3 separate regions of the Homo sapiens genome follow, and all the other regions are linked to region 1. The links come from fine-mapping of genetic effects on gene expression. A gene starts in region 1. Each other region holds a variant in brackets. All regions are shown on one strand. Distances are from middle to middle.

What was found. PIP is the estimated chance that this variant, and not a neighbour inherited with it, causes the effect. A credible set is the group of variants that fine-mapping cannot tell apart.
Region 2: its variant is the best candidate, but not a certain one, in a credible set for the expression of PRKAB2 in anterior cingulate cortex (GTEx, PIP 0.53).
Region 3: its variant is the best candidate, but not a certain one, in a credible set for the expression of PRKAB2 in monocytes after LPS (Quach 2016, PIP 0.81).

Annotation. Positions count from the first base shown.
Region 1 is chr1:147,167,829-147,176,011 of GRCh38, forward strand. It overlaps PRKAB2 (protein kinase AMP-activated non-catalytic subunit beta 2), which reads right to left and starts at 4,642. Exons shown (of 8, transcript NM_005399.5): 1 at 4,601-4,642; 2 at 4,161-4,339; 3 at 1-105. The coding sequence starts at 4,316. It also overlaps a transcript of CHD1L not described here. RefSeq lists silencers at 4,302-4,571, 4,742-4,971.
Region 2 is chr1:148,010,845-148,019,027 of GRCh38, forward strand. It overlaps a transcript of GPR89B not described here, the pseudogene PDZK1P1, the pseudogene TRR-CCT6-2 and the pseudogene RNU1-129P. Among named protein-coding and RNA genes, the nearest start is that of TRQ-CTG3-2, 18 kb to the right of the region's middle. RefSeq lists enhancers at 2,310-3,021, 3,022-3,733. The variant G/A (reference allele first, on the strand shown) is at 4,740.
Region 3 is chr1:147,198,212-147,206,394 of GRCh38, forward strand. It overlaps FMO5 (flavin containing dimethylaniline monoxygenase 5), which reads right to left. Exons shown (of 9, transcript NM_001461.4): 7 at 2,941-3,293. It also overlaps a transcript of CHD1L not described here and the pseudogene CCT8P1. Among named protein-coding and RNA genes, the nearest start is that of FMO5, 23 kb to the right of the region's middle. The variant CT/C (reference allele first, on the strand shown) is at 4,101.

The DNA.
Region 1 (8,183 bases):
GCCTCCTTCAGACCAGCGGATAACAGTGGGCCGGGCCTGCTGTGTGGGCTTTACGGAGTCCTCCAAATCCTGCTGCCATGATACAAACTCTTTGTCCCCAGGGAGCTGTAAGAAGGAGTAGGTCATCCCTAGAATAAACTGTGACCCAAGAATTCTAAAAAGGTCACTCTCCTCCCTAGGATAGAGAAGGGTGCTAGGCTTTGGCTAAGGATATAAACCCCAAAATTAGCAACTAAATCAGAGTTTGAACAAATTATAGAAAAAGAACTCATCTAGGACCAAAAATGGTCAAATGGCCTATGCTCAAGCACTGCCTAAATCATAGCCTAACTTTTGAGTCTACCTGTGTCACTTACCCTTCCAGAGCCTTAGACTCTCCCTTAAAAAAAAAAGAAAAAAATAACTCCCTACCACTAGTTTAACTCATAGGCAGGCAATTATGATATGCTTCTGAGTCTTTCTTCAGAGGAAAAAAAAATGAAAACAAAGTATGGTTCTGTAAAAGATAATTAAGTCAGCCATATATTTTTATAGGCAAATATGAATAGCTCTCAATTACCAGTTGTAATGGAAGTCAGAGATATCAAAATTCATAAGTAATTCATAAACTGTATTTCAGCTAAGAAGTAAAAAGAAGAAACATTAAAAATTCAAAAACTAGATCACTGATTTCTTAAAACTTGAGAAGTGGCTATGAAATCTTACTTATTCCCCTATCCCAGGCTTATACTAATTATTTCAGGAGTAGGAATAAAAATTCTAGAACCTCAAGAAGCAAGAGATCAAAAATACAATTTCCTTTATCAAAAGTAGCTCTCTTATCAAATGAGGTTTATGGGATTGTAAAAACAGTAACTCCTGTTTCTTTTCATTACTATCCTTTGGACCAAGAGTTGGCAGACAGCCAGTAAGCCAGATGCTTTTATCAAGTGTTATTTGAAAACAGCTCTGCCCATTTGTTTACCTATTATTTTACTGATTGATTGATTGAGAAAGGACCTTGCTCTGTCACCCAGGCTGGAATGCAGTGAGTGGTGTAATCATAGCTCACTGCAGCCTCGAACTCCTGGGCTCAAGCCATCTTCCCACCTCAGCTTCCAGAGAAGCTGAGACTAGAGGTGTGAACCAACATACCTGCCTTGCTTACCTATATTGTCTATAGCTGCTTACAGGCTACAGTGGCAGAATTGCGTAGCTATAACAGAGACTGTATGGTCTACAAAGTCTAAACTATTTACTATCTGGCCCTTTACAGAAAGATTGCTGACCCCTATTTTAGACTGGTTTAAGTGACTTTGGTAAATAAGACTGTATAGTATTAAGCCTAAATATTACTAAATTGAATAATGTGGGTTTTTTTTTAAAAAAAGGACTAGCTTATTCATTTGGGCTTTCTTTTCAAAATGGTTGACATAGCTTCCCTCCATACATTCTCTTGATATTCCTCAAAACTACAGTATAGCATATCAGTAGCAGGATAATCCAAAGTAAATAGAGAAAGAGAATTGAAAGGACTTTCACATAAGGAATTGACTTAAGAGAAAACTACATATTCTCAGAACAATGCACTCTTGACTAACTGGCTGCGTTAGAATTACAAGAATTTGACATATGCCTAAGAATAACCCTCAGATTCGGATGTAAGATCTGGGAACCTATTTTTAAAAAGCTTTCTAGATAACACTGTGATTATGTTAAAATAAAGGAAAAAAAGCTTCCCAGATATACCGTGATTATGTTAAAATAACAAAGAAAAAACCCTCATCTTTAGAGGTACATCCTAAAATGTTACAGATAAAATAATACTTGATATAATATCTGGGAATTTGCTTCAAAATAACTAGTGGGAGAATAGTGGACTGGGGTATAGATGTTATATGTTCATTCAAGATATGATCATTGTTCAAACTGGGTGGCATGTATATAGATGTCATTATACTGTTTCCCCCTACTTTGAAAGTGTTTCAAATTTTCCAAAAACTATTTAAAGAAATCTGAGGTGATTCTAATGTGCAAACAGGATTGAGAACCACTGAACTAGTCCACTGAAAAAGGCAGGCATTCAAAGCAAAGTAGGCCCCCCTGCCACTGTTTCTGTCAGTTACTTTTATGACAGGATTTTCAGTTTAGAATTTGAAAGCTACAAACTATTAATATGCCTAGCTTTGGAGGAAAGCCCTTCCACTTATGACATGACATTTCTGTAGTAGGAATGAATGCAACTGACTAGCAGAAAGATTGTTTACTCCAAGTTACTCAGCAAAACTACCAGGAAAAGAGGCAAAACGACAATCAGAACTACAGTTTGATGTTTAAGTAAAATGTTGAGTTTAGAAGTAAAGAGGCTACATTGAGAACTATAAAATTTTAGACTTAAATGAGACCTTAGGAATTATCTGATTTTCAGACAATCTGAAAATTATATGAATAATTTTCTTAATTCACAAATGCCAAGACTGAGGTGAGAGATAAGAATAATACAAAATAGGCCCCAATTCAGACAGAGCAACCTGGCTTTTAATCAGGACACCAATTACTGCAGTCACAGTTCGACAAATACACTGTATTTAAATCCTGAGTCATCAACATAGGAAAAGGGTAAAAATATAATGAGGCGGATCACCTTTCGAAAGCTTTGAAGAAGTAAATTCAGATGGCTTGTAGATAGCCCAAATAAGAATGGAGAATTGGAGAATAAACCCCAATAAGTGCTCCTTTTAATCACTCTCACTTCTCTGTGATTATGGTTGGTTTTTTTGTTTTTTTGTTTTTTTGTTTTGAGAGTCTGTCACCCAGGCTGGAGTGCAGTGGTTTGATCTAAACTCACTGCAACCACCGCCTCCCGGGTTCAAGCGATTCTCCTGCCTCAGCCTCCCGAGTAGCTGGGACTACAGGCATGCACCAGCATGCCCGGCTACTTTTTCTGTATTTTTAGTAGAGACGGGGTTTCACCATGTTGGTCAGGCTGGTCTCGAACACCTGACCTCAAATGATCCAACCGCCTCGGCCTCCCAAAGTGCTGGGATTACAGGCGTGAGCCTCTGCGCCAGGCTGTGATGATGTTATCAATTGAGATCCAAAGAAATAAATCATGGAATCCAAATTCCATGTGCTACCAATATGGCAAACAATACTCTATTCACTCTCTAAAGCCCCAGTTCCCTGGGAAGTGATGAAATGATAGGAAACATCAAACACACCCGAATCTCCTCAAGCCCTCCATTTTTCTATCTCATCCAGTCAGTCTACCTGGAGGAATTACTTGTATTTCATGCTGACAGCTCTGAAAGCCATTAGAAACATTAGAATGGTAATCGCTGCTATCAGCTCCATCTGTCCTTTCTTACAGAGTGAAAACAAGTTGTTCTCTTCCTGAAAGTCCTTGGAATTGAGAGCAAGGTCTTCAGGGCAGCTGTGGGTTGTCGTTTTTTTAGCCACGCAACATTTTGAAGTACTACTGAGGAGTAAACAAGTCGTGGAATCATTGGCTCTTCCACCTACGGAGCAGCAGCGGGGCGTGAAAGAGGCACAGCCTCAGCCACCACAACTATAAAGTATGGGACAAAAATTAAGCAGTCAACTAAATGATGTCCTTAATTGATCCCCAAGACTAGGAGAAAGTATTCAATAAGCAAGTAGTTGCTGCTTACAGCCGTGCCAAAAGGGAAGAGGATCACAACTGTAGAGCTGCTAGAAGAGCAAAAATGATACTGATACATAGAAATTTTCAGAAAAAGAATTTCATTTAGCCACCTCAGGGCAAAGGTGAGAAACTACCACCTATGGTCAGCAACTCGTGCAACCTACCCTCTGAAGTTGTCCACCAGGGATTACAAACTACAAATTCAGCAACGCTATGGAAGAGAGCCATTCGTGCTCGGAGGATCGGGGATGGGGGGATGTCTATTGTCCCCATCCTAAAAATGTGGCCAACAGATTAGTCAGAACACCAGGAAAGCAAGAACTCCGCCTCTTTATCCTATTTTGAGGCGGCACTTCAAGAGGAATTATCATCCAACACCTCTGTCCCCGATAAATCCCTTTAATTCAAAAAACCATAGCCCGGTTCGGCGCGGTAGAAAAGAACCAAGAAAGGGAAGAGGAGCCCAGAAATCAACCCGCTGCAGTACTGACACCAACTGCGGGCATGGGACGCTTACCTTGGAGTCAGGGAGGCTGAACACGCTGGGGTCGTCCGTACTCCCCACCATGATCTTGTGCTCCTTCCCCGGGGCATGGCCGCCTGCGCCCTCGGAGCGTGCAGCCTTGGCGCCGTGGCGCTCCCCGGACACCCGGTCGCTGGTGGTGTTTCCCATGGCTGCAGCTCGTCGGGGACCACCTACCGCGGGGAACGACACCGGGCTGGGAACACCTCAGCCGCCGCGTCAGGGGCGCCCCCCGGCCCCGCCCCTGCGCCTCGGGACAGGGCAAGGGATTCCCCGCCCCAGGGAAGCCGAGCCCTGGAGCCCTCTCCCTCCTGGCCTGCGGGAACGCCTGCAAATACCCCGGTGCCCTCACTGGCCCTAGCTCAGGAAACCCGCTATCGGGACCTCCCCCGCGTCCCCGCGCTCACTGCCAGGGGCGCCCCCACTCCAGTCACCTCGGGCGATGCGCTCCCTCCTCCAAGGGCCACTGATGTGATGGCTGTTCTGCAGATCAGGCCACCAATAAAGTTATTGAAATTGAAGCCGCACCCCTCGCTGGCGACCAGCGATTCCTCCTAAAATGGCTACAAGGCCGGCGGCGCGGAGTCCGCCCAGTGCGCGTTCCCTGCGGCCTGCAGCCTCGGCGCCCGGGACCCGCCGGCCTCTCTAGCCGCCGCCGCCGCCGCCTCGATGGTGGGCAGTCGCACGCAGCCTCCAGCGCCAGGAGGGGGCGCCAGGCAGGGCCTGTCCCGCCTGGGGAGACTGCGCCCGGGATAATAGGAGCGCTTGGCCTCTGAGACTACCCGGCAGAAGGGACGTCCCCAAATGACACTCGGAGGCCGCCTCCCTGGGCTCCGGTGCTCGGTGCCGGGAGGAGCGGCACGGCTTTCTACCCCGCCTCAGGTGCGCCAGCACGTTTTCTGGGCAGCATCTGTGTGTTAGGCGACCGGAGAGGTGGGTTCCTTATAGGGAATAAGAAAACTGAAACTGACTTCCAACTGCAGGCAGAAGGAAGCAGTGGTCATTGCTGGAGGTTAAAACTGTTCTGACCGGGCGCAGTGGCTCACGCCTGTATTCCCAGCACTTTGGGAGGCTGAGGCGAGCAGATCACGAAGTCAGGAGATCAAGACCATCCTGGCCAACAAGGTGAAACCCCGGCTCTACTAAAAATACAAAAATTAGCTGGGCGTGGTGGCGCGCGCCGGAAGTCCCAGCTACTTGGGAGGATGAGGCAGAAGAATCGCTTGAACCCGGGAGGCGGAGGTTGCGGTGAGCCGAGATCGCGCCATTGCACTCCAGCCTGGCGACTCAGCGATACTCCGTCCCCCTCTCCCCGCCCCAAGAAAAATCTGTTCAGTGGGGAGCGACAAGGAAGGAGCTTTCAGCCCGACTGGGGTCGCAGGGAAGAATTCAAGATGGCGTGTTTAGGAGCTCTAGCTCCTTGACAAATTAGTAAAATGTTAGTCTTAGGAGAAGAACGAAAAGGCTCTCCTAGGCTAAGAAACAGCATACACAGTGAGAAACCTCAGAAGAAATAAAATTCAAGGAAGATAGCAACAACGAAAACATCAGAAGGAACACTAAAGGTATAAAAAGGGCAAAGACAGCCCTAGGGTTGGGAGGGATCCAGGTTTTTTATGAAAATTAGTGGAATCCCTAAGGTACTTACCTTTGTATTATAAGTATTTGCATGTCTCCTTCTAGAAACGTTTATCACTCTGTGTTACACAGACCAGCAGTGTTGGCGTCAACTGGGAGCCTGTTAGAAATGCAGAATCAGGCCCCATCCCCAGGGTTCTGAATCTGCATTTTAACAAGATCACATTAAAGTGTGTGAGAAGCAATGCTTTGACAGCTGGCAGAGAGCAGATCCAGATTTGATACCTTTTCATATTCTGCATGTACCTTATACAGAGTAGGCTTTTGCATTTGCGGAATGAAGGATACAGGAATACTGTTTACTGTAATCCATTTCTAACCAGATATGCCACTTAGGCTTAAACACGGCCAATGATGGGGAACCCCAAGTTACATAGGCCACCCTTTCTGAGTGAGCAGCTCTATTTGCTGAAACGTTCATTTTTATATTATGAAGTTGACATCCCACTTAAGTACAACAAATTCACTACTCCCCTATTCTTTGCTCTGCCTCTTATAAACTCATTCTTTGGCTCATAAACCAAAGACAGTTTACAGGAAGAAAAAAAAAAGGTACGATTTTACTGCAACTTCTTGCTCACCCCTCCAAAATCTTTATGTCTGAGTACATGCTTTTTGGTTATCCCTACTTTTCTCCCTCCACCCCTCAATTCCTTACCATAGGACACTGAAGCAAGGCCCTTGAAGATACATAATACATTAAACCTTGACTTGTGTAGTATTCAGTTTTCTGACCCCAAGGTGGTTTCACCATGCCAAATAATATGTCCTTGGTATGTATTTCCTTGCAGTAGTCAAATCAGCCTAGCAGAAACAAAGTACGTTAACCAATGGAAAACTGACGGAGAGAAATAAACTGTTTTTGCACAGCTAAATGGAAATGACTTTTGAATTATCTGCTTTGGAAGATTATCCATGACACTGTTCTGCCCTGCTCTGCTCTAACAACATTTGTAAGTCACTCAACAGTTAATAATAAAAGTCAGTTTTGAATATTGCAGGTTTTAGACACAGAACAAATGTAATGTGACACTGTAGGAAGAATGAATTCTCCTTAGTCCCAAATTCCTTTTTTTTTTCTTAGATTCGGGAATAAGTAAAGATACAAGATCCTCTTAACCAGTATCAGTATAATTGTTCCCTTTAGATTTATTGCTGTCACCCCAATGCTCTTCTTTCTTTCTAGAGGAAAGGAAAAGAAGGAGGTAATAGGAAAAGTAATGGGTTGTCCTGATGTTACTGTGTCTAGGATGTCATTGCCACTGGTCTCCTCAGATCAATCATTCTGCCTAATAAACAGAAAAATAACATGGGCAGCCTCACATGCAAGCCTTTACACACACTGCTAAAGAGACCTCGCTTCCTCTGAGAAGTGAGGATGTGAGAATGAAGGATTGATTTTACAGAACTGGATGACAGGTTAAATTGGGCATCTGGAGGTTTATATTCCCATCTCCACTCACCAAGTTTCATCCTCCATTTATGACCAAGGATAGGTATAACATCTGATCTTGATGGTTACTGTTTCAAAAAACAATCTGATCTTTTTTATAAAGTTAAACATTTACTTAATCATGCAGCATACTAATTCCCACTCCTGGGTATTTATCCGAGTGACATAAAAACAAGTTCACACAAAACCTGTAAACACATATATGTCTTTATTCATATAATAGAAAAAACACAAACCCTAAAATGGAAAAAACATAATGTCCTTCACCTGGTGATATGGTTTGGTTCTGTGTCCCCACCCAAATCTCATCTCAAATTGTAATACCCACGTGTTGAAGGAAGGACCTATAACCTTCACGTGTCAAGGGAGGGAAGTGATTGGATGATGGGGGCGGTTTCCCCCATGCTGTTCTTGTGATGGTGCATGAATTCTCACCAGAGATGATGGTTTTAAAAGTGTTTGGCAGTTCTTCCTTCATTCACACACACTCACTGTCTCTCCCCTGTGCCACATAAGATGAGCTTGCTTCCCTTCTACCATAACTGTAAGTTTCTGAAGTCCTCCCCAGCCATGCAGAACTATAAGTAAATTAAACCTCTTTTCTTTATAAATTACCTAGTCTCAGGTATGTCTTTATAGCAGTGTGAAAATAGGCTAATACATCTGGTGAATCAATAATTAAAATGTAGCATAGCTATAAATGGAATACTACTCAGTAATAAAAGAATAACTCGATACATACAATAATATTGATGAATCTCAAATGCATTATGGGAAGTAAAAGAAGCCAGGCTCCACTTATGTGACATTCTGGAAAAAGGAAGACTATACGGTCAGAAAACAGATCAGTGTTTGCCAGGACTTGGGGGTGGGGGGTGGGGAGTGATTGACTACAAAAGGGCATGAAGAAATTTTGAAGGGGAGGT
Region 2 (8,183 bases), 840 kb after region 1:
TTCAAATCTGGTATGTTGATTTAAATGCCATTATAAATAACTTGATAATGTTGCCTGACATACGTCTCCTATGCAAGGCTTTGCTCTGGGTGTCCTTTCTGTTTGCTCGGTGTGTCTACTCAAGAGTCCTATACAAATCTATTTTAGAAACACTGCTTCAAAGTCCTTCCAGAGACTCTTCAAAATTAGATCTAGTGAAACCGCACTCAGTGGAGCATTGGTAGTTCAGCGGTGGCATTCTCCCCACCTACGCGGGAGACCTGGGTTCAACTCCCGGCCAAAGCAGGCCTTCTTACCCTTCATGCTCCAAGTTCATGCTTGAAGGGCTATTACATTTCTAGCCAACAAAGTTATTGTACTACACAGGCTGTACAGCATTTAGGGGCCTTGAGTCGTGGTGGCTGGAAGCTAAACCTGCCACCTCTGGAATATTCTCTGTGCTGGATCTAATCTTGAAATTACATTTCCTCTGCTCAAAGCCTGTCTTTGAAAGTGGGGGTGTTTCCGGTGGTTTGCTGCAGTTTGGAGTACTGGGAACTAAATAAAGCCTTTGCTACTTTCATCTAGTCTCCGGGCACACCCCTGAGTAATCCAAAGGCCATCAGACGGATTCTCGTGCTGGACTTTCCCCTACCTTAGGCCACATCTCACTATGGAGTGAGGATCAAGAAGTAAAGGTCTGGGAAGGAGAGAGCTGCAGGGGCCAGGGAGACTCTTCGTGAGTCGGAGAGCCATCAGCGGCCCAAGGAAAAGGGAGGATCGTGGGGAGACGAGGGGAGCAGTGGAGATGAGGGGAGCAGCGGAGACAGAGTCTCACGCACAGGTATGCCCAGACACCCTGAACCCAGTTACTTAACCTCGTCAACCACTGTGGCATCCGCGGGGTCCGTGGGCCCATGGGTCTTCCGGGAGGGATTCTGTGTCCCTGTTATTGTGTGTCAATAGGTGTTAGCCTGATATTTATATTTTTAATGAGAGAAAACAAACTCCAGAATTTGGGAACTGTTTTTCCGGTTTTGCTTTATACCTCTTGGACACTCCTTCGAAGGACTGGATCTGAGGGGCATTGGGGTGCGACTACGGTGGACAAGGGATGATTAATTTTCATCCAAAAATCTTTGGTGGATTCCCCCGGCTCTCCAGCTCACCAGTCTAACAGTAGTTTAAAACAGAAGATCAGCAACGTTTGGAGAGTTTTTTTTTCTTTGCGTTTTAATGATAAACTTGATTTATTCAATTCTATTCTGAGGTTGTCTTTCTATATTTTGAGTATAAAACGATGGCCATACTATGTTGGAACCACTAAGGTTCTTCTCTTCACTTGTTATTCGTAAAGTCTCTTTGTAATCTGAGAATTTCCTGAGTAAACTGGGAACTGTTATACATAATTCCTTGTTTTTGAGCATTCTTTGTAAACAGGAATCAGGATTGGGGGTGGGGAGGGAGGGAGGAGTAGGAGTGCTGATTTGTGTAACGGAAAATCATGGATTACTTATGTGATGGAGCAAAGGTTTAAAAACTCTTAGCGTCCCCGGATTTCCCCTTTTACTGTTTGCTGAAGAAAATTCTGTCTTTGACTCCCTTCCTTACCCTCTCCTGGCCTGTGAGCTGCTTCCTCCCTATTCAGTTTATTTCCTCCTCCCCTCCCCGCCCCACTCCCCCACCCCCGCAGCCCCCTCCTCTTTTTCAGTGAAGCTGCTGGAGGAAAGTCGGGTTTGGGAGAAGACCCACACAGGCAAGGACAGCAGAACACTGACATATAGTTACACTCTTGTCGCCAGCACTGTCATTAAGATGTTGTGAAAAGACAAAGACAAAAGAGGAGAGGAAAGAATAATATCTCCGTTTCAGGAGATATTCCACAATATTCCAGGATGTTGTGCCTACTGTCCAGAGTCCTTGATCCGATGTAGTAAAGAGCTAGGGACATTTTCACTGAAGGCTTTGATTGCTGGCAAAATCTCATTAAAAGTGTATACATTGATAGGTTGGCCACAGAATGGCCAAAGAAGAGCCTCTGGCCTACATCTGCCAAGATATATGTGTAAGAATACACTCTGCAGCATTATTTTTTATTGTAAAATAGCAGAACGAATTTATTATTCAATAATTATAAAATGTTCAAATGTATGTGACTATATTCGGACAATGAAAAATGCAGCTGTTAAAAATAGACAATACTGATGATTCAGATGATGTTACTGATGAAAATAATAACAGATGACAATTATTGAGCATTTATGCAATCTTACATGCATTACCTTATTTAAAGTTCAGAACAACTAAGGAAATGAGTAACTTGGGGCGGGCGTGAGAGGTTTGGAGGCACAAAAGGAAGATAGGCATTCAAGGGACACCAGGATAGAAGAGCCACAGTAGAAGAGAGAGGAAGAGGAGTCCGCCAGGTGGGATGCTGCAAGCCGCTGGATAGCACGGCGGAGATAGGGCGTTCCTGCCCCGCAAGCCTCCCTGCGACCGCAGGCCTCCGGCCGCCTTCTTCCAGGAAGACGCGCCCTGCTTTCTTCTGATGTTGGTAGAGACGCTGCAAAGCGCATCGTCCTCGAGCATTTCTTCTCTCCCCAAGACCCTCCGAAGGAGCATTTCTTCTCTCCCCAAGACCCTCCGAAGGAAGGATGGGCGGACAGACTAAGTGGTCAAACGCGCAGAGCTCCAGCTTCCGCAGGAGCATTTCCCGAGTGTCTTTCATGGGTAAGAGTGGGCCCTGCAGGATAATGCCTCCCGTTCCCTGAGGAGCAGTGCGGGAGATGCCCATGTGGCCAGCTCCTGGGCCACGCGACCCAGGCCCTCCAGGAGGAGCGAGGAGTCCTGGGCCCTGAGCCAGCCCCCTGGACCGGCTGTGCCAAGAGAAGCAGCAAGGGAAGGGGTCCCCTCCTGCCTCAGGGTCTCTGTCCTCCTGGGGTTAAGAGACGTGCATCCAACTCCCTCTCCAAGTGCTGGAGAGGAGGCTAGGTCTTTCCCACGGGCTGGGGGCCTTGCTGTCCCAAGGACGGCTGGGGAGGAGGAGGAGGCCGGTTGAGATATGTGAAGCAGCTCTGGCTACAGCGGGTAGGGAGAGGGCGCGCGGGACCCAGGAGCCTCCGTGCGGAGCCAGGCCTCAGGAGCAGCCGCCTTGTTCCTGGAAGGGGTGCCTCCCTCCATCTTGTCTCCAAAGACTGTAGGGAGACCTTCTCGCCCGGTAGGAAAGCGACGTCTCCCATGCTTTCCCACCACGCAGGCCTTGTGGCCTTTCTCCTGCTAGTGTCTGCCCTCCAACCTGCGGGGGCTGCGGCTGCCACGGTTCCACGCTGGGTGGACGCTGCCTGCCCGGGATCCAAGAGCCGCCGTTGCAGGCGGGAGTTGGGGAGTCGTGTGCAGGTCCGAAGGAGACCCAAGCTCTTGGTCAAGGCTTTTTTGCTATAGCCAAATTCAGCGTGTAAAAGACAGAGAGCTCACATCTGTCTGTTCGTAAGCTTCGGTGAGAACACCAAGGAAGCGCACTCAAGATTCGTAGGAGGGCGGGAAGGGTCCCTGGCGGCGATATCCACATCGGCGGTGAGCCAAGGCATGTCAGGAGAGTGAGTGCGCGAACCCAGCCGCCGGATAGCGCAAACACCACCGCGGACGAGGGCCCCGCATGTGGAGAAATCGCAGGGGTCAGCGGAGCCGAAGTGTGGTGGACTAGCCTCCTCCAGGGAGAACCCCCTTCCTGACCACTGTATGTCCCCCGCCACATAAGGGGAGAGGAGGGACAGCACAGCCTACTCTCCCCTGGCCGACGATCAGGGTCACCACCTTCTCCTCTGCTCTCCCCTCGCCATTCTTCCAAACCACCCTCCGCCAAAGATTCCACGGACAGTCACCCTCCCAACAACCCAGGCCTCCTTTCAGCAGCGGCTCCCGCCCCACAGCCACCGCGCCCTCTCACCCCCGCGGTTCTGCCCGCCGCCTCTGCCGAGTCTGTGCACTTCACCTCCCTGGGTCCCGCTCCCCCCTGAGCTTACAGTGGACGAGGGGCAGGACGGGGGGAAGGCCATTCGGCTGCCCTTCTAGCTTCAGAATCACCCAGTGAACGGGTTTCAACCGTAGCCGGCAAGATGCGCCTCTCCGGTTTTCCGAGGCTTTGGAACCTGCACAATTGTTCTGCAAAAGACGGTGGCTCCGCCTAGCATTGGATGGGCGCTTGCTCTGCATGGTGATGCCGGAGCGAGGGTCGACTGTCCGTATGTCGCAGTCGGGTGGTGTGCTTGCTTCCAAGTCTGGAGTTGGCTGGTTCAAGCTCGTTCTACTGAGCGTTTCTTGCATTTTAAAAATGCTTAAACCGCTGGCAACTTTCTTCTACCCAGCACATTCTCTCATGGAATGGCAGAGCAAGACCAACTTTACCCGCCTCTCCTCCGTGTCTCCCATACGACATGAGGACGTAAATCAAGGTCCGCTAGGATTCTAGGATCTCTCTCTCTCTCTCTCTCTCTCTCTCTCTCTCTCTCTCTCGACGGAGTCTCTCTCTGTCACCAGGCTGGAGTGCAGTGGCGCCATCTCGGCTCATTGCAACCTCCGACTCCCTGGTTCAAGCGATTCTCCTGCCTCAGCCTCCCGAGTAGCTGGGATTATAGGCACGCGCCACCACGCCCAGCTAATTTTTGTATTTATAGTAGAGACGGGGGTTTCATCATGTTGGCCAGGATGGTATCAATCTCCTGACCTCGTGATGCACCCGCCTTTGCCTCCTAAAGTGTTGG[G/A]ATTACAGGCTTGAGCCACCGCGCCCGGCCTTCTCTCTATTTTGTTTGTTTGTTTGTTTGTTTGTTTGTTTACTGTCATTCATTTAGCCCTTTCCATACGCTTTTGAAGTTAAATTGGTTCTGTGATTTTATGATTACATATAATGTTCTAGTCATTCTTGTACGGGCATTTTCGGCGTTTTCAGCCACTGGTGTATTTCTATAGGATAGAGGTGCAATTACTATAGGAAGAGCAATTACTCCATCATAGTGTTCACACGGTTTTTATATCATTCCATTCTCTCTCCTCTGTTGGCTTATTAGCTATAACTCTTTCTTTTGTTACTTTAGTAATTCCCTTAGGGCTTATAGCAAACCTTTTTAACTGAACACAGTCAACCTTCAAGTGATATTAAACCTCGCCTTCTGGCCTTGAAGTTATTGCTGACATGTACTTTGCTTTTACGCATGTTATAAACCCACAACCCATTGTTATTGCTTTTGTTTAAATGGTCAAACTTTTACAAAAGAAATTTACAAAATAAGAAAATACCTAGTATAGTTACCTATTTCTGGTGTTCTTCATTTCCTCATGTAGATCTGGATTTTCATCTGGTATTGGATTCCTTCTGCCCGGAAGACTCCTTTGACGTTTCTGTAGTGTGGGTCAGCTGGTAGTGAATTCGGTCAGCTTATGTAAGTCTCTAAATGTCCTTACTTCACTTCCAGTTTTGGGAATTTATTTTTTCTGGCAGAGTATTCTAGGTTAACTTCCTCTGCCCTCAGTACCTTAAAGATGTTGCTTCTCTGTCTGCTCCCATTGCATTGCTGCTCCCAGTGGGGGCCGGCGAGAGCAGAAAGAAAGTTGATGGCAATTCTCATCTTTGTTCCTGTGTAGGTACAATGTCTTTTTCTTCTGGCTGGATTTCAGCAATGTTATTATGAGGTATCTAGCAGTGGTTTTCTTCATGTTTCTTGTGCTTTGGTTTCCTCAGCTCCTTGGGTCACTGGATTTATAATTTTCATTATGGTTGGGAACTTTTCAGCTATTGTTTCTTCAAAAATTGGCTGGGAACAGTGGCTCACACCTTCAGGAATCAGGAGGTGTTGAGTGAGGCCGGGAATTGGAGACCAGCCTGAGCAACATACTGAAACCCCACTCGTAATAAAAATAACAAAGAAAGAAAATAAATGCTTCCTTTCCTCCCCGCTCCTTTTCAGGGACTCACATTACTCATAAATTAGGCCTCTTAAATCTGCCCTACAGTTCACTGATAATCTTTTCATTTAAAAAAAAATCTTTTGTCTGTGAGTTTCATTTTGCATATTTTCAATTATTCATGGTTCCATATTCCCTGATCATTTCTTCTGCAACGTCTAATCTGCTGTTAATCCCATCCAGCGAATTTATCATCTCTGATATTTTGGTTTTGTCTTGCTTGCTTGCTTGCTTGCTTGCTTGCTTGCTTTCTATCTTTCTTTTTCTTTTTCTTTTTTTGGATGGAGTCTCACTCTGTCGCCCAGGCTGGAGTGCAGTGGCGCGATATTGGCTCACTGCACCCTCCGCCTCCTGGGTTCAAGCGATTCTCCTGCTTCAGCCTCCAGAGTAGCTGGGACTACAGGTGCGTGCCAGGACACCCAGGTAATTTTTTGTATTTTTAGTAGAGACAGGGGTTTCACCGTATTAGCCAGGATGGTCTCAATCTCCTGACCTCGTGATCTGCCCCCCTCAGCCTCCCAAAGTGCTGGGATTACAGGCGTGAGCCATTGTGCCCGGCCTATACACAAACTTTTGTATTAGAATAGAAAAGTTGAGAAGGTAGTTCACAGAATGGAGTAAAGAGGATGAAATGGGTTTTTGGAAACCATTCACATTTTAAAGTTGTTTTAGGCCAGGCGCGGTGGTTCATGCCTGTAATCCCAGCACTTTGGGAGGCCGAGGTGGGTGGATCACGAGGTCAGGAGATCGAGACCATCCTGGCTAACATGGTGAAACCCCGTCTCTACTAAAAATACAAACAAAAAATTAGCCAGGCGTGGTGGCGGGCACCTGTAGTCCCAGCTACTCAGGAGGCTGAGGCAGGAGAATGGCGTGAACCTGGGAAGTGGAGCTGGCAGTGAGCCAAGATCGGGCCACTGCACTCTAGCCTGGGTGACAGAGCGAGACTCCGTCTCAAAATAAATAAATAAAATAAAATAAAATAAAATAAAATAAAGTTAACACCCCTCACCCCCAAAGAACAATGTGTGTTCTCCCCAGACATCCCTTTATTAAAATATGCAGAGAAAGTGTAGGATAAAAGAGCATATGCTAAACTCCTCAGAATGTGTGTCTGGAAGTGGACAGGGGAATGGGAGTGGGATGAACAGAGAAAAGAAGGAAAGACAGTAAGGGCCTTGCTGAGAGCAGCCACCATAATGTGCCCTGAGCTAAGGTACATGATTACCTTCTTCCTGTGCACCTGAGATCTAAGAGAATATATTAACAAATCAGGGATATGGAATTTCAAAAACACTATGGGAAAACAACAAATTTACCCAAACAGAACAGTCTACTTAAGAAAGGCAGGAAGAGGCCGGGCGCGGTGGGTCATGCCTGTAATCCCAGCACTCTGGGAGGCCGAGGCGGGCGGATCACGAGGTCAGGAGATCGAGACCATCCTGGCTAACATGGTGAAACCCCATCTCTACTAAAAATACAAAAAAAATAGCCAGGCGTGGTGGCGGGTGCCTTTAGTCCCAGCTACTCCTGAGATTGAGGCAGGAGAATGGCATGAACCTGGGAGGCAGAGCTTGCAGTGAGCCAAGATCATGCCACTGCACTCCAGCCTGGGCAACAAAGTGAGACTCCGTCTCAAAAAAAAAAAAAAGAAAGAAAAGAAAAAAAAGGCAGGAAGAGATTTTATAAACAAAGCAAAAACACAGAAATCATACAATGAGGTGGTGGGAATGAGACTAACTATGCCCATCATCTCCAACATAACACTAATTACTGCTAATTATAATGGATCTAAGTCTCTCATATTGGATAGAAAAGGAAATGTGGACTCTAATGGTTCAATGGCAGAAAAGGGTTAAATATTCAAAGCAGTGCACATTATTATTATTATTATTATTATTTGAGACAGAGTTTCACTCTTGCTGCCCAGGCTGGAGTGCAATGGTGTGATCTCAGCTCACCACAACCTCCGCCTCCCAGGTTCAAGCAATTCTCCTGCCTCAGCCTCCCTAGTAGCTGGGATTACAGGCATGTGCGACCATACCCAGCTAATTTTGTATTTTTAGTAGAAACGGGGTTTCTCCATGTTGGTCAGGCTGGTCTCGAACTCCTGACCTCAGGTGATCCGCCCGCCTCGGCCTCCCAAAGTGCTGGGATTACAGGCATGAGCCACTGCACCCAGCCTATTATTATTATTATTATTATCATTATTTTGAGACAGAGTCTCGCTCTGTCACCAGGCTGGG
Region 3 (8,183 bases), 30 kb after region 1:
ATCAGAATTTAGAATTTAATTTACCTCAAGGCTAAACTGACATTTCTTAGAATAGATGTTTATTAGATACCTCTTATGTGCTAGGCAGTGGTCTAGGCTTGCAATACAAAGGCAAATAAACATGAGTCCTTTACTTAAGGAGCTATCACTATATTACAAAGGGAGGGAAGAAATATGCATAGACTTTTCCTATAGAAATAAAAAGTAAAAGGAGGGCATATCAAGAAGAAAGCACAGTGGAAGCAAAAGCACAGGGTACAAGGGTACCTGCTGTGTTTGCTGCTTAGTGGGTACGTCATCCAGTGCATCTAGAGTATTGTAGGAAGTATGGTAAAGACTAGTGAAAGATGGGCCTGAGGCCGGGTACAGTGACTCATGCCTGTAATCCCAGCACTTTGGGAGGCTGAGGCAGGCGGATCACGAGGTCAAGAGATGGAGACCATCCTGGCTAACATGGTGAAACCCCGTCTGTATTAAAAACACAAAAAAACTAGCCGGGCATGGTGGCGGGCGCCTGTAGTCCCAGCTACTGGGGAGGCTGAGGCAGTAGAATGGCCTGAACCCAGAAGGTGGAACTTGCAGTGGGCCGAGATAGCGCCACTGCACTCCAGCCTGGGCGACAGAGCGAGACTGCATCTCAAAAAAAAAAAAAAAAAAAAAAAAAGAAAGAAAGATGGGCCTGAAATTGGAGGTTGTATCCAATTTGTGGAGGAACTTTAATGCCAGCCTATGACATAATGACTTCTTGTGATCCAGAGATTTGGTGTAACTTGATATAGTTTTGAAGGAAAGAAAGTTGCTGAGTGAAAATAAAACACTTGCAAGGGCTGCAAAAGACGCAATCAAAACAGAAACTATGTTTCATTTCAGTCAAGGCAAGGAAGTAAATTCAGTGTTCTAGAAAAGAGTAGAATATTTTCTTGACAAGAGAACAATAATTCCAGAGAACAGAAGAAGAAGGAAAATGGGGCTTGGTAGGGAACAGACAAGGAAGGAGGCAGGCTTTGTTGGGCAGACATGAAAAAAATGGGAAAAACAAGCTAATCCAAAGGGTTTAAAATTGGCATAGTGAAGGGATAATTCAGGGAAGAGAAAGGCAAGAATGTGGGAGGCAGACAGATTGGCCATGGACAGAATAAAAAACCCAGAGTTCCTGTTGGAAGTCTGGTAAAGTTAGAGAATTCTGAAGATTTCTTCCTTCCAGGTGTTAGAAAAAAGCTGGAGGAATTAGCACTAGGCTTCTGCTAGCATAGGAAGCTGGGCTTTTTGTACATTTTCCCTAAGATCCCATAATCTCATAACCATAATGCAGACTCTTGCAAATACTCATTTTCTCTATTTCCTCTCAAGAATTCACTTGGTCTTGGAAAAGAGTCCCAGTTGCTTAAAGTATACTAAGATGCTGTGGCCTGTTTTAATGAACTGTTCTCCGCTTATGTAATTGACCCAATTAAAAGATCACTTTAATATGACTAGAATTAGGCCAACTTAATGGGCTATTTGCGTTTGACTACTTGTATAGTTCTCTCAGGTAGTACATAATCTGCTGGATAGGACTGGAAGTAATAGAAATTTGGGGAAATTTAGAAAGGTTGTTGAACTATCAACTGTAATACCATTGGTTCTTTTTTTCTCTGCAACTGTGAAGATTTTCACTAGTGAAAACAAAAAAGGTGTAATTCCAACAGGAACTCTGAGTAGTTTTAATTAAATGCTAGTAACAATAGCAAATTTTGTTATAACAACCATAGAATCAGTGAATTTCTTCTTTAGAAGGACCCTTAAACATCATCTTGTTTCTCTCTATCCTGAGGCTTGAATCTACTCCATACCTTCCCCCTCTCCTGCCCCGGCCCAGTGAGCATTCAGTCATTTGGCATCCTTTTCCTTTTCTGCTTAGAATTTCAGAGGCAGCTGGTTCCATCATGAAATGGCATTGGCTGATAGGAAAAAGGTTTTGGATTTTTTTCTTAATGGTAAGCTGATGTGTAACCCTCAAGATTTCACTCCTTGATTCTGGTTTGACCCTTTGAAGCTATACTGAGTAAATCTAATCCTTCTTCCATGTGCCTTCCCTTCAGATATTTGAAGGAAATTCTCATATCTCTCCTGAAGTTTATCTTCTCCAGGCTAAATCTCTCTCCGGCTTTTTCAGTTGTACTTCAGATGGCATGTTTTCAAATCCCTTAAAAAATTTTTCTCTCTCTCCTTATTAAACGCACTCCAGCTTCACTTTTAAAATGTATCATTAGGTGTGGTCTGGCCAGTTTAGAGAACAACAGTTGTAATGTTCTAGAACATTATAGTTTTTTAATGATGCTAGATTTAATTATTTCTTTGGAAGCTATATCATTCTACTGACTCATATGAAACCTATTCCCCTTTTTTTTTCATATATTCCTAGCCAAAACTGAAAGAGGGGACATAAAAGGAGAAAAGTGAGAATTTGGGGGATTGAATATCCTACAATATTGACTAGTCTGCAACCAGGTCTTAATTTTCGGCCGAAATAAAGTCATACTATTTCTATATTTTATTTTTATCTATAATGAAAGAAGATAAAACTATTTTACTTCAGAAATATATGCCAGTTGCCTAAAATCTAGATGAGTAAATTCTAATTTGGAGTACACATTGGAATTACTGGGGAATATTTTTCTCAAAGATGTTATGACTGCCCCACCCCAGACTAACTAAATAAGCATCAGCAAGGATGGTGTCAAAGCATGCATAGCTTGGAAAAATTTCCCAGGTATGATGTATGTCCATGGTTATAAATTGCTACTTTAGATTCACTCAAAAATATATTTTTCTGTACTAACTTTGTGCTAGGCACTGTTGTAATCATACATGCTATCTCTAGCTATTTAAAAACAAGTACCTAAACAGAGGTAAACATATCACCAAGTAATTAAGTAGTCTATTTGCATGGTCACTTACCTTTAAATACCTGAGTGGCCCAGCGTCCTTGGAGCTCTGAAATGGGCATAATGGCTCCTAAGGGCTGAATCAAGCCTATGATTGCAAGAGTTGGCCTTTCCAGGTTAGGAGGGAAGACCTTTTTATACAGGGATATCTTGTTTTTGACCACTTTGACGGAATCTTCCAGAAATGGAAAGTCAAAGCTATAGCCTGTGGCAAAGATAACAGCATCAATGTCATCCTCCCTGGAGCCATCCTCAAATATGGCAGCTGTCTCCGTGAATTCCTTCACATTTCCTTTCACTTTCACCAAGCCAGAAATGATACGATTTGGCAGGTCATCATTTAAGGTTGGATGCTGACTCAGAGCTCTGTGAGTCGTGACAAAGATCAAGTGGAGAAATGAGAGAAAGAGAAATCAGTACCACATAAGTAAAATTTTGCTTTGGTGGAGGTAAACAGGATGCCAATAATCTTCCCCTTGGTCTATGCATGAAGTTTGGAAAAGGTCTAATTTATACTAGGTTGGCACAGATCAAGATCAGATCTGAAGTTGGACCCTGGATGCACTGAAAGGGAGAGTGTTGGAGGAGTGAAGGAAGAGTGTTGTTTGAGGAGTGCATATATGATTTCTCAAGTAACAATAATATTCTGTGTGTGATATGATAAGGCCACAGGTCAATAGTTTGTATTCTCATACCAAGAAGTCTGACAGAACTAAGCTGTCAACATTCTGTTCAGTCTCATTTCCAGTTTCAAAGGCTCAAGAGCTAAGTTTAGGCCACTGTTTTCCAAACTGTATGATAAATTACATGTATGTAGCAATTTACAGTTTATAAGTTGCTTTTACATGCATTAACTTGACTCTCACAAAACTCTATGAAGGAAGCAGAATAGGTGTCATTATCCAGGTTTTATAAATGAGGGAATTGAGGCCTAGAAAAGTTATGTGACTTGTCCAATGATACACAGCCTAGGATTTTAGAATTTATCTCAAAGTTGTTTTCAGTGAATTATCTTGGTATACTTCGGGCTTGTTATTGTTTCCTAGGGACAGCGTAGGATACGGATACTGGAAACATTGGGTTGGTGCAAAAGTAATTGCTTATTTTTTTGCCATTACTTTTAATAATAATAAGGCTGGTTTCTAGTATCGTGGAGCTTTCTAAAAAGCAGTT[CT/C]TTTTTTTTTTTTTTTTTTTTTTGAGACAGAGTCTCTACTTCTTTTGCCGAAGCTGGAGTGCAGTGGCATGATCTTGGCTCACTGCAACCTCCACCTCCCAGGTTCAAGTGATTCTGCTGTCTCAGCCTCCCGAGTAGCTTGGACTACAGGCACCTGCCACCATGCCTGGCTAATTTTTGTATTTTTAGTAGAGACAGGGTTTCACCATGTTGGCCAAGCTGGTCTCGAACTCCTGACCTCGTGATCCTCCCACTTCAGCCTCCCAAAGTGCTGGGATTACAGGCGTGAGCCACAGCACCTGGCCTAAAAAGTAGTCTTAATGCCTGAATACTATATTAACTCATCTTCAGACAGAGCTGTCCTGGCCTCAGGAATTTTATATGTTTAAATTACCACTACTGGTTTGTTGCATTTAGTTATGCTTTGACACTAGGTCGATTGTGTTCTGCATTCCAACCTCATGATTTCATCTTTTTCTCCAAACCTACTCCTTTTCACCAGCAGTACCACCATCCATCCATATAGTTGCCCAACCCACAAAACCATGAGTTATATATCTGGTCACCAAGCCTTTTCCCTTTCTCCTCTTAACATCCCCAAGATAGTTTTATCTACTCCTTGTTATCTCAACCAGATGATACAATTGTCTTTAGGACCTCCTGTCTCATCCCACTCCCACACCATTTTCAAAATGGTCTTTCTAAAATGTAGGTATGATTATGTTACTCACTTGCCTAAATCTTTGAATGGCTTTGGACTGTCTTCATTCCATACTTTTTATTTAGTAGACCAAAGGTTTCCTTTTTTTTTTTTGACAGTAACAATATGTTTATTATAACATCCAGCCAAGAATACAAACACAAAATACCTCTTAATGTAAGGAGAATAAGAAAACATCACGCGATTCTTAGAATACTACTACAAATACAGCCTTCACCTACAGTAAAAATTAAGCCAATTTCAATCATTTTGGTCATCATCCCAGTCTTTCTTCCCACTTGGAGGCTTGGGCCCACCATCTGGTTTTGCCATGATTACCTGACCCACTCTAAGTACAGTGACTGCAGCATTAGCAGCGAGTTTGATAGACCAGTGTTTTCCCAGGTAAGTATCTAGAACACCAGCTTCCAACATGTCCGTTACAGCAGGGACTACAGCCTCAGTATCTAATCCAACATTTTTATTTCCTTCTTGAGGTACTGCATAAAGTTTAGAGATTACTTCATTGGCCTTAACTCCAGAGTTTTCTCCAGAGTATTTCTGCCAGTGCACGGGGAATAGCTTCAAACGCCTCAGCAAACTTCTTAATAGCGTACTGTTCAAGTCCAGGACATGTCTCTCCATATGATGTGATCTGTTTGGCTAATTCAATTTCTGTTGCTCCACCTCTGGGTACAAGACGTTTATCCCTTGTAAGAACTTTGAAAGTATTAACACCATCATCTACTGCCCTTTCTATGTCATCCATCAGATTGTCTGTAGAGCCCCGAAGTACTATGGTAGAAATGATGCCATCTTCCTTTTCATGCTTAAAAACCACCACCTGAGTATCTCCAACTTCTGAGAGGTAAACACTGTCTCAGTGTCCCATTTCTTCAAGGACAGGAGGTGTCAATCTAGGAAGAGCTGTAGCACCAACTGTTTTACAGAGTCTTCGGACATCCCATTTTGAGTTTAGCTTCACTAACATCATATTATATTTGTTTGCATAATGAAGAGCCATGTCTGCCACTTTGCCACCTGTTACTACAACATTTGCACCAGTATCAGCAATAGCTTTGACTTATGCATCCATGAGATTTTCTTCTCCCTTACTTAAATTCATCAATTCTTCATCAGTCTTTATCAACACTGTTCCCTTAGTTTCTGTTATCATGCCATCAAAAGGACAAGAGTACACTGCTATTTTTGCATCTTTGACAGATGTACATCACCTTCTGTTTCCTTCTTAAAAACCATGCCATGCAATACTGAAGAGGAAGTGATACCACAGCCCAGAATTTTACAAACTCTGATGTTATCAACTTTGAAATGGCCAGAATCAGGAAAAATAGATACGCATGCCTGAACAATAAGCTTGGCCAGAAATACTTCATTACCATATTGTTTACACATTACAGAGGTACGAAGTAGAGATGAGACTTCATCAACATCTCGAAGGTTTTTTGCAGAACAACGTACCAAATTAGGAAGAATCTCATGAGCTTTTCTGCAAGCTATTTCATAACCTTCTATGACCTCTGAAACTGACAGGCCAATCCTCAGAAGTTCTTCAGCTAATTCCAGGAGAGCTCCGGCAAATACCAGAACAATGTTTGTGCCATCTCCAACTTCTTGCTCTTGCATATGAGAAGCCATTACAGTCATTTTTGCAGCAGGATGCTGTACTTCTAGTTCTCTTAAAATAGTCGCTGCATCATTTGTCACAAACAACTTCTCCAAGTGGTTGATAACCATTTTTTTCATTCCATTTCGTCCATATGCTGTACGAGTGGTTTGGGCAAGCTCCTTGCAAGCTTGTATGTTTCTATACACAGCCTCTTCTAATTCTGAAAAGTGTTTCGCTCCCTCCTTGAGCATCTGGGCGAAGCCCGGAGCCTTGGGAACTTGAAGCGCCATGGCCAGCCTGCAGGAAGCCGTTCACGTGACCGCTCAGAAGACCGCGGAGGAACCAAAGGTTTTCATGCCTGATGAACCTGGAGATACATTCAGTCACTCTTCCATCTTTGCTATATAGTCCAGCCATACCAGACTACATGCAAGTCCTGGAGCATAATGTATTTTTTGCTGTTCCAAGACTTTGTCTTTATAATTAGAATGCTATACCCTTGCTCTATTTGTTTGGCTATCTCCTATTATTCAACAAAGCCTCAATTTATTTTGCAACCACCAAAAACATGCATGCTAAAATAATTAGGTGAAAGGTTTTTAGGAAACACAGTTTCCAAATGTCACCCCACTGATTAACTTCAACGGGAAAAAATATCTTTATAGTGGAGAAACTTGATGGTATCTATACCACCTTATCTAAGTGGTCAAATTTAGCATTATTACTGTGAGATAAACTGACATAATGTGGTTCTTGATGTGACCCACTAAGATCAACATGTCCTATGTAGTATATGTGTCAAAAACATTTAACCTGAATATAATAAAGGAAAAAAATTATGCAAGTCTAAATTTAGAGACTCTCTACAAAACAATGCCTTGGGTTCTTAAAAAGAAAGCCCATGTCAAAGAGAGAATTATTTCTTATATAGACCAATGGAACAGAACAGAGCCCTCAGAAATAATACCACATATCTACAACTATTTGATCTTTGACAAACCTGACAAAAACAAGAAATGGGGAAAGGATTCCCTATTTAACAAATGGTGCTGGGAAAACTGGCTAGCCATATGTACAAAGCTGAAACTTGATCCCTTCCTTACACCTTATACAAAAATTAATTCAAAATGGATTAAAGACTTAAATGTTAGACCTAAAACCATAAAAACCCTAGAAGAAAACCTAGGCAATACCATTCAGGACATAGGCATGGGCAAGGACTTCATGTCTAAAACACCAAAAGCCATGGCAACAAAAGCCAAAATTGACAAATGGGATCTAATTAAACTAAAGAGCTTCTGCACAGCAAAAGAAACTACCATCAAAGTGAACAGGCAACCTATAAAATGGGAGAAAATTTTTGCAATCTACTCATCTGACAAAGGGCTAATATCCAGAATCTACAAAGAACTCATACAAATTTACAAGAAAAAAACAAACAACCCCATCAAAAAGTGGGTGAAGGATATGAACAGACACTTCTCAAAAGAAGACATTTATGCAGCCAACAGACACATGAAAAAATGCTCATCATCACTGGCCATCAGAGAAATGCAAATCAAAACCACAATGAGTTACCATCTCACACCAGTTAGAATGGCGATCATTAAAAAGTCAGGAAACAACAGGTGCTGGAGAGGATGTGGAGAAATAGGAACACTTTTACACTGTTGGTGGGACTGTAAACTAGTTCAACCATTGTGGAAGACAGTGTGGCGATTCCTCAAAAAGAACTAGAAATACCATTTGACC